Linked DNA regions of Homo sapiens: region 1 is linked to region 2. Evidence: fine-mapped expression QTL. A gene starts in region 2. The other region holds a variant in brackets. All regions are shown on one strand. Distances are between the middles of the regions. Region 1 overlaps CHID1 (chitinase domain containing 1). Region 2 holds the start of POLR2L (RNA polymerase II, I and III subunit L).

Region 1 (5,504 bases), 46 kb before region 2:
CACTGCAACCTCTGCCTCCCAGGCTCAAGTGATCCCCCACCTCAGCCTCCTGAGTAGCTGGGGCTACAGGCACATGTCACCACACCCAGTTAATTTGTGTTTTTTTTTTTTTTTTTTTTTTGGAAATGAGGTTTTGCCATGTTGCCCAGGCTGGTCTTGAACTCCTGGGCTCAAGCGATCATCCCACCTCGGCCTCCCAAGCCACCGTGGCCAGCCTTTTCCGATGTAAGGCACTAATGTCTGACCTGTGTTCCCAGGGTTTGAAGGGGGCTGGCAGGGGCTGGCTGTGAGGACACGTCCTTCCAGAGCTGACAGCACCTGTCTCAGGTGGTTGGGAGGACTACAGGCCTGGGGCTGGGTGAAGATTCCTCGGGGCAGCAGACACTCCTTGTCCAGAGGCCATGGGCATGGCCACCTCTGTGAGGCACTGATTTCATGGGGCTCCCAGGTTGCCCTTTGTGCTTAGGGGAGCTGCAGAAGCAGCCATCGGTGGGGACCAGCTCAGGAGCCCAGGGCAGTTCTTGAGGCTGGGGCAGAGGACCAGGTGCCTGTCTTCTGCTGGTGGCAGCCTCTGCCTGAGCTTCTGGCCCTAGGCAGGAAGTGGGCAGTTGGAGCTGGGCCAGGTCCCTGCCCCTCACCCCACAGCAACCAAAGCTCACAACTCCATTTGCATGGCGCTGGTGGGGGTTGCAGCTGTAGGGTGGGATGCACGCCAGGGCTACGGGCACGGTGACGAGGCTGGGGGCGGGGCCGAGGCCCACGGTGGGGGTCCCCGGGGAAGTGGGACCCAGCTCGGGGGAGGGCTGGGCACTGCTGTTGTGCGCCCGCTCCACTGGAGCACAGGGCTGTGCCCTCCCAGTCGGCGGGGCCGGTGAAGGTGCTGAGGCTCCCGTGGGTTCTCCCGAGACTCTGGCTACAGCCCCAGAGGTGAGGAGGGCTGTTTTGTCATCTGTTTATCCTTCCCCCATCCCACTCTGAGGGAAGAGCAGCCACTGCAGAGGAGCCTCGTAAATCCCTGTCCCTGGTGCTTTTGCAGCAGCGCGTAATTGTGCTTGTCACTCACCTCCCAAGAGCAGCGCTGCCAGCACACAGGCTCGCTCTCTCCAGGGGCACTGTCTGTGGAACAATGGCCCCTGGAGAGAGGTCTGCGTGCTGCGGGGAGGGGCACCCCAGTCGCCAAATGCCAATTTTATCGTGTCCTTCGTCAGCAGACAGAGGCAGCCCTAACTCAGCTGCCACAGACCCCAGGGTGTCTGGTCCTGGAACTGAGCACTCTGCGGACCTCCAGCCCTGCTCCCACAGTCAGTCTCAGCAATGGAGGAGACCCAGGGGCAAAGCCACAGCGTAAACCCCACAGGCCAGTGGGACCAACAGGCTGTCCCCAGGTGCCCATGTGGTGGTGCCATCCTTAACATGGGAGCAGAACCCTTGGGTCACTCTCTAGTTGGCCCCTTGTGTTTTCTGGGCATTGTTAGCTACTGGGACCCCCTTGGGTCCAGGGAGCTGACCTCAGGAACCCAGGAAGGGCTGGTTTCCTTCCTGGGCCCTGCTGGCGCCGTTGCCGGCCTTGTTGTCAGTGGTCCACTCTGAGGTGGGCGGGGCCGCGACCCTGGCCAGCTCCTGCAAGCCCCGTGGTTCAGGGCCGGCCATCGCTATATGTGGAGCCCAACTCAGCAGTCAGAGAAAGGTGACGCATGGGGGCGCCGTCACCGTATCCCCAGCAAGCACGTTTGCACAGAGGCCCCTGCTCCCGTCGCCCACCTGCCTCTTGCCCGCAGCCTCAGGGGATGGGGCAGGCCGCGTGCTGGCAGTGTGTGTTGAGGCCTCTGTGGGGGACCGTAGGCACCCCGTGCGGTGTGGACGGGCCGAGGTCCAGGCTGAGGTCAGGCCCCAAAGGGCCAAAGGGTGCTAACCGGCCAGTCAGGGAGCGGGCTAGGCCTGCAGGCTGAGGAACAGTAGAGCAGCCATCGTGAGGGGGCGAGGACGCCAGCAGCAGCAGACAGGGGCCAGGGGACCCAAGGCCATGGGGAGCGGGCTAGGCCTGCAGGCTGAGAACAGTAGAGCAGCCATCGTGAGGGGGCGAGGATGCCAGCAGCAGCAGACAGGGGCCAGGCGACCCAAGGCCATGGGGAGCGGGTTCAGAAATCTCTGACAGGTGGGCAGAGGGGGAGGGGAGCTGTGGGTGGAGGAACAGCTGTGGCCGCTGGCTGCTGGGGGCAGATGCCCTGAGCATGGGAGATTGCAGGGACAGTGATGCCAGCATCTGTTAGGGTTGGGGAAAGGTATTCCCTTGGACTGCTATGGGGCCTGACAGTGATGCCACCATCTCTGTTAGGGTTGGGGACTGGCATTCCCTCAGGGCTGCTGTGGGGCCTGGCTCTGCAGGTGGCAACTATAGGGCCAGGCGGTGTGGCTGGCAGGGACTAGGGACCATAGGCCAAGCCCACGCCTTCCTCACATTCAGCCTGGAGGGAGGTCAGCTGAATGGAGGTCAGAGACTATGGCTCTCCCCTGCTGGGTGGCTGGAAGATGACAGTCTAGGGAGACAGGGAGGCTAAGCCCACAGGGTCTGGTAGCTGGAGTGCAGGAGCAGGGAAGAGATGGGCCCACCCCAGCAGATGGCGGCGGGAGGGGTTGACGTGGAGCCGACGTTCCTTTTGCCTGGCGTCAACTACAGTGATGCAGATGTCACCCAGAGATGGCAGCTGGTCGGCCGAGGGAAGAGGGGGCATCTGCCACGTGGGCCCAGTGTCAGGACCAAGGTGGGTGGGTGGGGGTTTCAGGGAGTTCGCAGGTAGAACGTGAGAGTCGTGCTGTGCTGGAGGGACGGTGTGGGTACATGGCAGGAGACTGTGGGCTCACTCGTGTCACCGTCTCCCCTCGGATCTGGGAGGACGCTGTTCTGGAGGCCGCAGCCGCCCCGGCCTCTGGCAGCTGTGGGGTCCACGTGGCTGGAGGGACCTGGTCAGGCCCCAGCCTGGGATTGTTCAGTGTGAGGCAGCCAGCTGGGCAGTGCACCCCCAGGGCCCTGGGGCACAGAGCGGCCTGTCTCAGCACAAAGCCTGAGCAGGGGCAGCCCGGGAAGAGCAGAGCGCGTCCAGCCGTCTGGAGGGGGAGGGGCACTGGCGTTGCTGTGGGCCCCGGGGTCCAATCGAGGCCAAGTGGGCAGGCACTGGCGTTGGTGTGGGCCCGGAGTCCAGTCGAGGCCGAGTGGGCAGGCACTGGCATTGGTGTGGGCCCGGGGTCCAGTCGAGGCCGAGTGGGCAGGCACTGGCGTTGGTGTGGGCCCGGGGTCCAGTCGAGGCCGAGTGGGCACTCA[A/C]CTTGCATGCCGCTGCCTGCATGGGGCCCACCCACGACATGGCGATGGGAGGGTCGGCAGCTGGCTGTGATGAGCTCCTTTTCCTTCTTTCCTTCCTCCCGGGGCTTTCGTTCCTCAGAAATGAATGCAGAACATGGTGTTTTCGGTGTGAGCAGTAATTCCTGTTCATCGGAAGTCACGCTGCGTCTAATCCGTGACAAGCTGTTACCTCATTGCTCAGCCGTGGTGATCCCCTCTTGTCCAGGTGCCACGGGGCACGGAGACAGATGGCTCTGCTGCCGGCTCTCGCATGTGTCTGGGTGAAGGACACAGGCTGGGGAGGACACCTGGCAGTGGCCCTTTTGCAGTGTTTCTTGCAAGTAGGAGGAGGTCCACATTCCCGGGTGGTCCTCAGGGCCAGCACCAGGTGGGGGTTGGCAGGACCGGGGGCACAGGACTGGTGCCCTCCCCTCTTTCTCCCACTGATCACCACCGTGAGCTGCTTCCGCCTCTGAATGGGGCCTGCTTTGTTCCCTCGTGTTGTGTTACCACCCTTGAAAGCGTGAGGACCGTTCTTAGCCTGCGGCCGTGGTTGGTGCCCAGCTGTAGCAAAGTTGTTGGGTCAGTGGGTGGCTGCGTGAGCCCCGAAGGGAAAATGCAAGCTGTGCCACAGGCATGTCACATGTCAGCATGCTGCACTGAGGGGCGTGGTGTGGAGCCATGTCCCCTGGCAGGACTGCCCCTTCCTGCTTGGGGATGTCGTGGAGCTGCATTTCTGGTGGACGCATGGGGAGCATTCGTGGTTTCTGTGCCACATTCTGTAGCTGGTGGGAACCAGATCCTGGACACGTGGCCTCACCTACCAAGGCCTTGTGGAGTGAAGCCAGCTCTGCCAGGAGTGCCTGGTGTGGCCAAGGCCATGAGGTGGTGGAGGGCATGGCGCCCACGAGAGGGACAGGGGCGTTGCAGCACCGTGGATGTGGGGGAGGCACACGAGCCCGGCTCACGGCAGGACCCCACATGTCTGATAGCAGCGTGTGAAGCGGGACGGGGTGCTTGGAAGGGCATCATGGGCACAGGGGAGGGGTTGGACTGTGGGACAGGCCCCTGCAGAGTAGAAGCTGCGGCTGACAGGGCTGCCATGAGATTGGCAAAGTAGGAGCCAAAGGGACAGGCAGTCCTGCTGGCCATGGTCCTAGGGGCAGCAAAGGCCCAAGTCAGAAGCAGAACCGTGGAGCACGTGAGAGGAAGGAGTGACAGACACAGACAACTCGGACCAGGATGTGGGTGCATCAGAAGACACCACAAAGGAGCGAGAAGACCAGCCTCTCGCCAGGTGGACGATGCTGCCCACACCACTGACCAAGAGCACATGACCACCTGAGAGAGCTAGAGGAGAGAAAATGGGAACACGGTGGTGGGAAAGCAACGACGGGCTGCGTGTGGAGGTACGCGCCTGTAATGCCAGCATTTGGGGAGGCTGAGGCAGGAGGATCGCTTGAGCCCAGGAGTTTGAGACCAGCCTGGGCAACATAGTGAGACCTCATCTTTACAAAAAATTTAAAAGTTAGCTGGACATGGTGGCACCTGTGGTCCCAGCTACTCGGGAGGCTGAGAGGAGGAGCTTGAGCTCAAGAGGTCTTGAGGCTGTAGTGAGCCGAGATTGTGCCACTGCACTCCAGCCTGGGCAACAGAGCAAGACCCTGTCTCAAAAACAGAAGAGAAGAAAAGAAAGAAAGCAACAAAGACCCCAGAGAACAGCGGGCAGGAGACCTGGACTCTGAACCACGAGAGGCCACAGTGGATGCGTGCATGGAGCTGATGGGCAGGCCAGGAGATGCTCAACCATGTTATTCATGAGAGAACCACAAATGAAAGCCACGGGGAGATCATGGCTCAGGAGCAGCCAGGCTGGGATGGAACCGACGCAGCCAACGCTGCCTGGCATCTGCCGCCAGGACCTGAGCGATGTGGGGCTGTGAGCTGGGGGGCTCTGTGTGGGAGGGGCCAAGGTGCCACCTGGGACCGACTCGGAGAGGCGCTGGCAAGCCCGAAGCCCACCTTCCGGCAAGGCCTCTTCCTGGTGCAGTCGGCACCTTTTTGCTGTGTCCTCGCATGGCAGAGAGCTGTGGTGTCTCTTCTCATAGGGACACTAACTCCACCATGGGGCGCGTCATCATGGCCTCGTCTAGCTCTAATCACCTCC
Region 2 (5,000 bases):
AGTCTCGGCCCCATCTACAGGCCCCACCGCTCACAGCGCCGGTCTCCCAGGACCGTAGAGAGGACCCGGCCCCATCTACAGGCCCCACTGCTCACAACGCCAGTCTCCCAGGACCGTAGAGAGGACACGGACGGCGTGGGTACGGTGGGCAGTGGCCTTGGCTGTGTGCACCGCTGAGGTGTCGGGCACGTGTGCTCGTGGCGCCGTGTGCACCCACCCCATCCCACAGCACCCTGGGGGTGAGCACACATCTGTCCCAGGCATGGACAGGGCCAGAGAGCACAGGTGTGGGGGCGAGGCTGGGGACAGACACCTTCAACACCCTCTCCCAGTCAAGGTCATGCCCAGCCTCAGCGGCAGGAGGGATGCAGCCCTCCGGGCGGGCAGTTTCTGATCCCACCTGAGCTTTACAGACAGGGAAACGTGGGCTGGGATCCCAGACCAGAGTGCAAGTTCAGCTGAATCCCAGCCAGGGCTCAGCCCGTGCTCCCCCTCCCAGCCCTCCTGGTCCCGTGGCTGGCCTGTTTCCAGGGCAACACCCAGGGTGGGAGGGGTCAGCAGCTAAAACTTCAATCATGGGTTTCCCCTGGTCCTTTGCCCTGAAGTGATCCCTCCTCTAGCAGGAAGCAGCCGGGGGAGCCCACCCTCTGCTCCCTGTGCCCTGCCCTGACCACAGGAGGCTCCACAACGCCCCCTTCTATAAAACCAGCGCCTCACCCTCCTGGCCCCATCCCAGACCCCCCCCCCCAGAAGCCAGGCCGAGTCTGCGCCAACACTCCACACCCAGGAGAGAGGGGCCCCCACCCGCCCCTGCTGGCGGGCACAGTGCCCTGCCCCGCCACCAGGCTCCCTCCCACCCCCGCTTGCCTGAGGAGGGCCAGGCCCAGGCTCCCCAGGGTCCTCAGGTAGAGCCCAGTCGGGACTGAGGACAGGCCTGGGCCCCCAGGGGCCTCCGCACATATGTGGTGGGGGCTCGGGGGAGATGCACAGAGCCTGAGGCTGGGGCAGTCTCCAGATCTCAGGGGCTCTGCTGGGAAATGGAGGGATAGGAAGCGCACACACTCGGAATTCCAAGAATGTCAGCTTGGCCCAAGCCAGGATTTGGAGAGCAGCTCACTCCCCACCACCCCTTGCTCTGAGTAAACAACTCCTGCAGGCAGGAACAGGGGCGGGACAGGCCCTGGACCCTCCTCCAAGAAGCCTCCAGGCCCCCACCCACTCCCCAGGGCCCACCCTGCTAACATCCGGGACCCCCCTGCCCCCCTCACCTCCACAGCCACCAGCAGCCTCGCAGCTGAACCTGGCTCTGACCCCAGGCCACCGTTACTCAGGGCCCCTGTCCTGCCCTTCTGCCCAGAGCAGGATGTGCGTCCACTCATCCTGGGGGGAGGGGGTCAGGGAAGGGAAGTGGCCTCGGCTCGTGGCTCCGCACGTGGCTGGGTGGGGTATGGCAAATGCCACTGGGGAAGCTGCCCAGGGCCCTGGCCAGGGTGGGAGCGGAAACCCCAAGCGTGCAGTGGATCTGGCTAGCACCACTCCGGACCCAGAAAACCCTTCGTCCTCCTCCTCTGCAACTAAGGCAGACGCAGCATTGCCCTGAGAAAGCGGCAGCTGATGCCTGGAACCCAACACAGGTCCCACCCCAGCCAGAAGCCCCAGGCCGGCAAACCAGCCCAGAGCCCCCCATGGGTGCCGCTTTGCGGCCCACCCACCCCCACAGCCCACCTCGCACCTCCAAGGAGCCTTCTTTGCCTCTCACTGCACACCGACCCCCCATTTCCTCACCCCCACCCCAGGGGCACAGCAAGAAGGGTGCTGGTGCCAGCCCCCCCGCACTCCATCCGAGAGACACGGGCTCCTCGTCCCTCGTCGTCCGTAGGCCCTGAGCTCCAGGGCAAGCCAGAGCTGAGGCCTTCAGGGGGTCCTGCCAGTGCAGCCTCCGGGAGTCTGCCCAGGGATCCCCTGTGCCGGGGTCTTCCAGGTTCAGCTCAAAAAGCACCTCTTCCACGACTCCCTCCCCGACCTCCCTCCCGGGTCCCCTCTCCCCGTGCTCAGAGGCGCGTCTGAGCGTCGGGAGCTCGGGACGGCGAGCAGCCAGCAGAGCCGGGACCCGGGAGGGCGCACCCCGACCCCATTCCCGGGAAAGAGCGGAAAGAACGCGGACAGGAGCCCGGGGCGGGGAGCTGCCGGCGGGGGCTGTAATTGCGCAGCTGAGGCCAGGGCGGCGCCCCTAGGGGCTGGGCCGCGTCCAGAATGGGACCCCCGAACTCAGCGCCGAGAGCCCCGGACACCCCGCGGGCAGAGGCCGAGGCGGAGGAACCCACTACTCGGCGCGGCCAGGAGGGGCGGCAGGAAGACCCGCCCCGGCCCCCGCCCGCCCTCTCCCCGAGCCCCCGCGCCGGACCCCACTTGTTGCTGCGTGTCGGCTCTGGGCTCGAACTCGCGCGCCCCGCTCGCGTCCGGCTCCAGCCGCTCCCGGTCGGACACCTCCGGCCACGGGACCCTGGCCGCACGCCCCCACAACCCCCAGGCGCAGTACCTGCGCCGCCGCCTCCCGCTCGCGCCGCCCGCTCCCGCCGCGCAGCTGTCAGTCAAGCGGACACGAGAAACGCGAACCGCCGCCGCAGCTTTACGGCCCTGCTCAGACGCCGTAGCGCCGGGATGCACCAAGACGGTGGGCGGGGGTGTGCGGTCTGCTGCTGCCGCGGCCGCGCGGGCCCGGGAGCCCCGGGACGCACAGGCCCAGGAGCCCCGGGACGCACGGGAAGCCCCTATCGCGGCGGAAACTGCGGCCAGCGGTGGCGGGGCCGGTGGAGGGACGGCCGGAACAGCGGAGAACGAGCGGAGCCGATTCTCCCGCAACAGTGGACGCGCCCGGGGCGGGGCCTGGGGGGGTTCTTCGCGTGCGGCCGGGCCGGGCCGGGCAGTCTGGGACGCGCCGCCGCCATGATCATCCCTGTACGCTGCTTCACTTGTGGCAAGATCGTCGGCAACAAGTGGGAGGCTTACCTGGGGCTGCTGCAGGCCGAGTACACCGAGGGGTGAGGCGCGGGCCGGGGCTAGGGGCTGAGTCCGCCGTGGGGCGCGGGCCGGGGCTGGGGGCTGAGTCCGCCCTGGGGTGCGCGCCGGGGCGGGAGGCGCAGCGCTGCCTGAGGCCAGCGCCCCATGAGCAGCTTCAGGCCCGGCTTCTCCAGCCCCGCTCTGTGATCTGCTTTCGGGAGAACCTTATCCCCTGAAGTCTGGGGAAGAGAACGGAGTTGGGCTTCAAACCAGTGGTGTCCTGGGGATTCTAGGTGGCCTGGCGGGTCGCAGGCGTCTTGTCACCCGCAGTAAAGCCCTTGGCCTCCGCCCTATTCCCATCTCTGCCCCCAGGCCCACCCCATGTCCTGCAAACCTCGCTGCAGGACGGGCGGGCGCGGCGGCTGACATCTGTAATCCCAGCAGTTTGGGAGGCCGAGGCGAGAGGCTTGCTTGAGCCCAGGAGGTCGAGACCAGCCTGGACAACCTGGGGAGACCCTGATCTCCAGAAATTTATTTTATTTTATTTTTCTTTTTTGAGACGGAGTCTCGCTCCGTCGCCCAGGTTGGAGTGCAGTGGCGCGATCTCGGCTCACTGCAACCCCCGCCTCCTGGGCTCCAGCAATTCTCCTGTCTCAGCCTCCCGAGTAGCTGGGACTACAGGCGTGTGCCACCACGCCCGGCTAATTTTTGTATTTTCAGTAGAGATGGGATTTCGCCATGTTGGCCAGGCTGGTCTGGAACTCCTGACCTCAGGTGATCCACCCGCCTCGACCTCCCAAAGTGCTGAGGTTACAGGCGTGAGCCACCGCGCCTGGCTCTATCTTTTTAATTCGCCGGACATGGCGGTGCACACCTGTGGTCCCAGCTACTTGGGAGGCTGAGACGAGAAAATCGCTTGAGTCTGGGAGGCAGGTGGAGGTTGCAGTGAGCCAAGATCACGCCACTGCACTCCAGCCTGGAAGAGAGAGTGAAACTCCGTCTCACGCACACACACACACAGAAAAAGAAATGCAGGGTAGACTTGCTGACCACCCTCATCAGGCTTTGTAGGGGAGGCGTCTTTCTCCTGTGCTTGTCCCTTGGTGCTGCTGTCACCACGGTGCCTGAGTCTTGGTGCCCCCGCTGGAGTCTGACCCTCGCCCACTGAGTCTTCGTCACATGTGAAGCCCTGGGCTTGTGTGCGCCAGCCTGCCATCGGCACTTGGTGCAGCTTGCTGGACAAACGAGGAAAGCGAGTGGGCTGCTAGACTGAGTGGCTGGCGGCCTGTCCAGACCCTTTCCCCGGATAGGAACGGCAGGGGCCTCCCATGTGGCCTCCCCTTTCCCAAGCTTCTGTGTCTCTGCACATTGGAGCCATCGGTGTGGGAGTTTTCTGGAGGTCTTGAGGGTGACTGGAGCTAGGTCCCAGGGAAATGAAAGCTTCTAATTGGCTTGGGAAGTGGGAGAGGTGGCTCCGTGGAGAAGCAGTCTCTCTCTGATGGAAGGAAGCAGAGGTGAGGAAAGACCCCACAGCGGCAGAGCAGGGCTTGCTCTGGCTGGGGTGGGGGTGAACCAGCTAAGGGCAGGCCCCTGGAGAGCTACCCTGCCGTGGCCAGTGCTGGATGAGGTGGCTGCACATCAGCACCTTGGTGGTCTTGGTTTTCTAAGCTCCCCGCAATTACTTCGTTTTCATTTCATTTACATTTCTTACATACGTTATACACACACACGTACAGCCAGAGTAGGTGGGAGAGGAGGCTCCTCACGCTCCACCCAGGGTTCTGGGCATTTCCAGGTTACTCCAGCCAGGATCATACTGCTAGATCTCAGCTTCTGAGCCGGGTGAATCTGTTCGCCTTGCCGGTGGCGGGGGGGGTGAGGCCAGCAGGCAGTGAGAGGCAGGTTGGATGTGGGCTCCAGGCCTTTGCAGACCGTAGAGAACTCAGTTGGCCTCTGCTCCTCCCCTCGACACAGGGATGCGCTGGATGCCCTGGGCCTGA

The links. PIP is the estimated chance that this variant, and not a neighbour inherited with it, causes the effect.
Region 1: its variant is the best candidate, but not a certain one, in a credible set for the expression of POLR2L in whole blood (TOPMed, PIP 0.72).

What each region holds. Positions count from the first base shown.
Region 1 is chr11:886,556-892,059 of GRCh38, reverse strand. The region is part of intron 8 of CHID1 (chitinase domain containing 1); the gene reads left to right. Among named protein-coding and RNA genes, the nearest start is that of CHID1, 22 kb to the left of the region's middle. RefSeq lists enhancers at 1-253, 254-771, 1,811-2,330. The variant A/C (reference allele first, on the strand shown) is at 3,320.
Region 2 is chr11:840,455-845,454 of GRCh38, reverse strand. POLR2L (RNA polymerase II, I and III subunit L) reads left to right here and starts at 2,926. Exons shown (of 2, transcript NM_021128.5): 1 at 2,926-3,041; 2 at 4,975-5,000. The coding sequence starts at 2,947. TSPAN4 (tetraspanin 4) reads right to left here and starts at 2,603. Exons shown (of 9, transcript NM_003271.5): 1 at 2,540-2,603. RefSeq lists silencers at 1,931-2,099, 2,085-2,314, 2,335-2,424, 2,535-3,164 and enhancers at 2,433-3,176, 3,177-3,922, 3,923-4,667.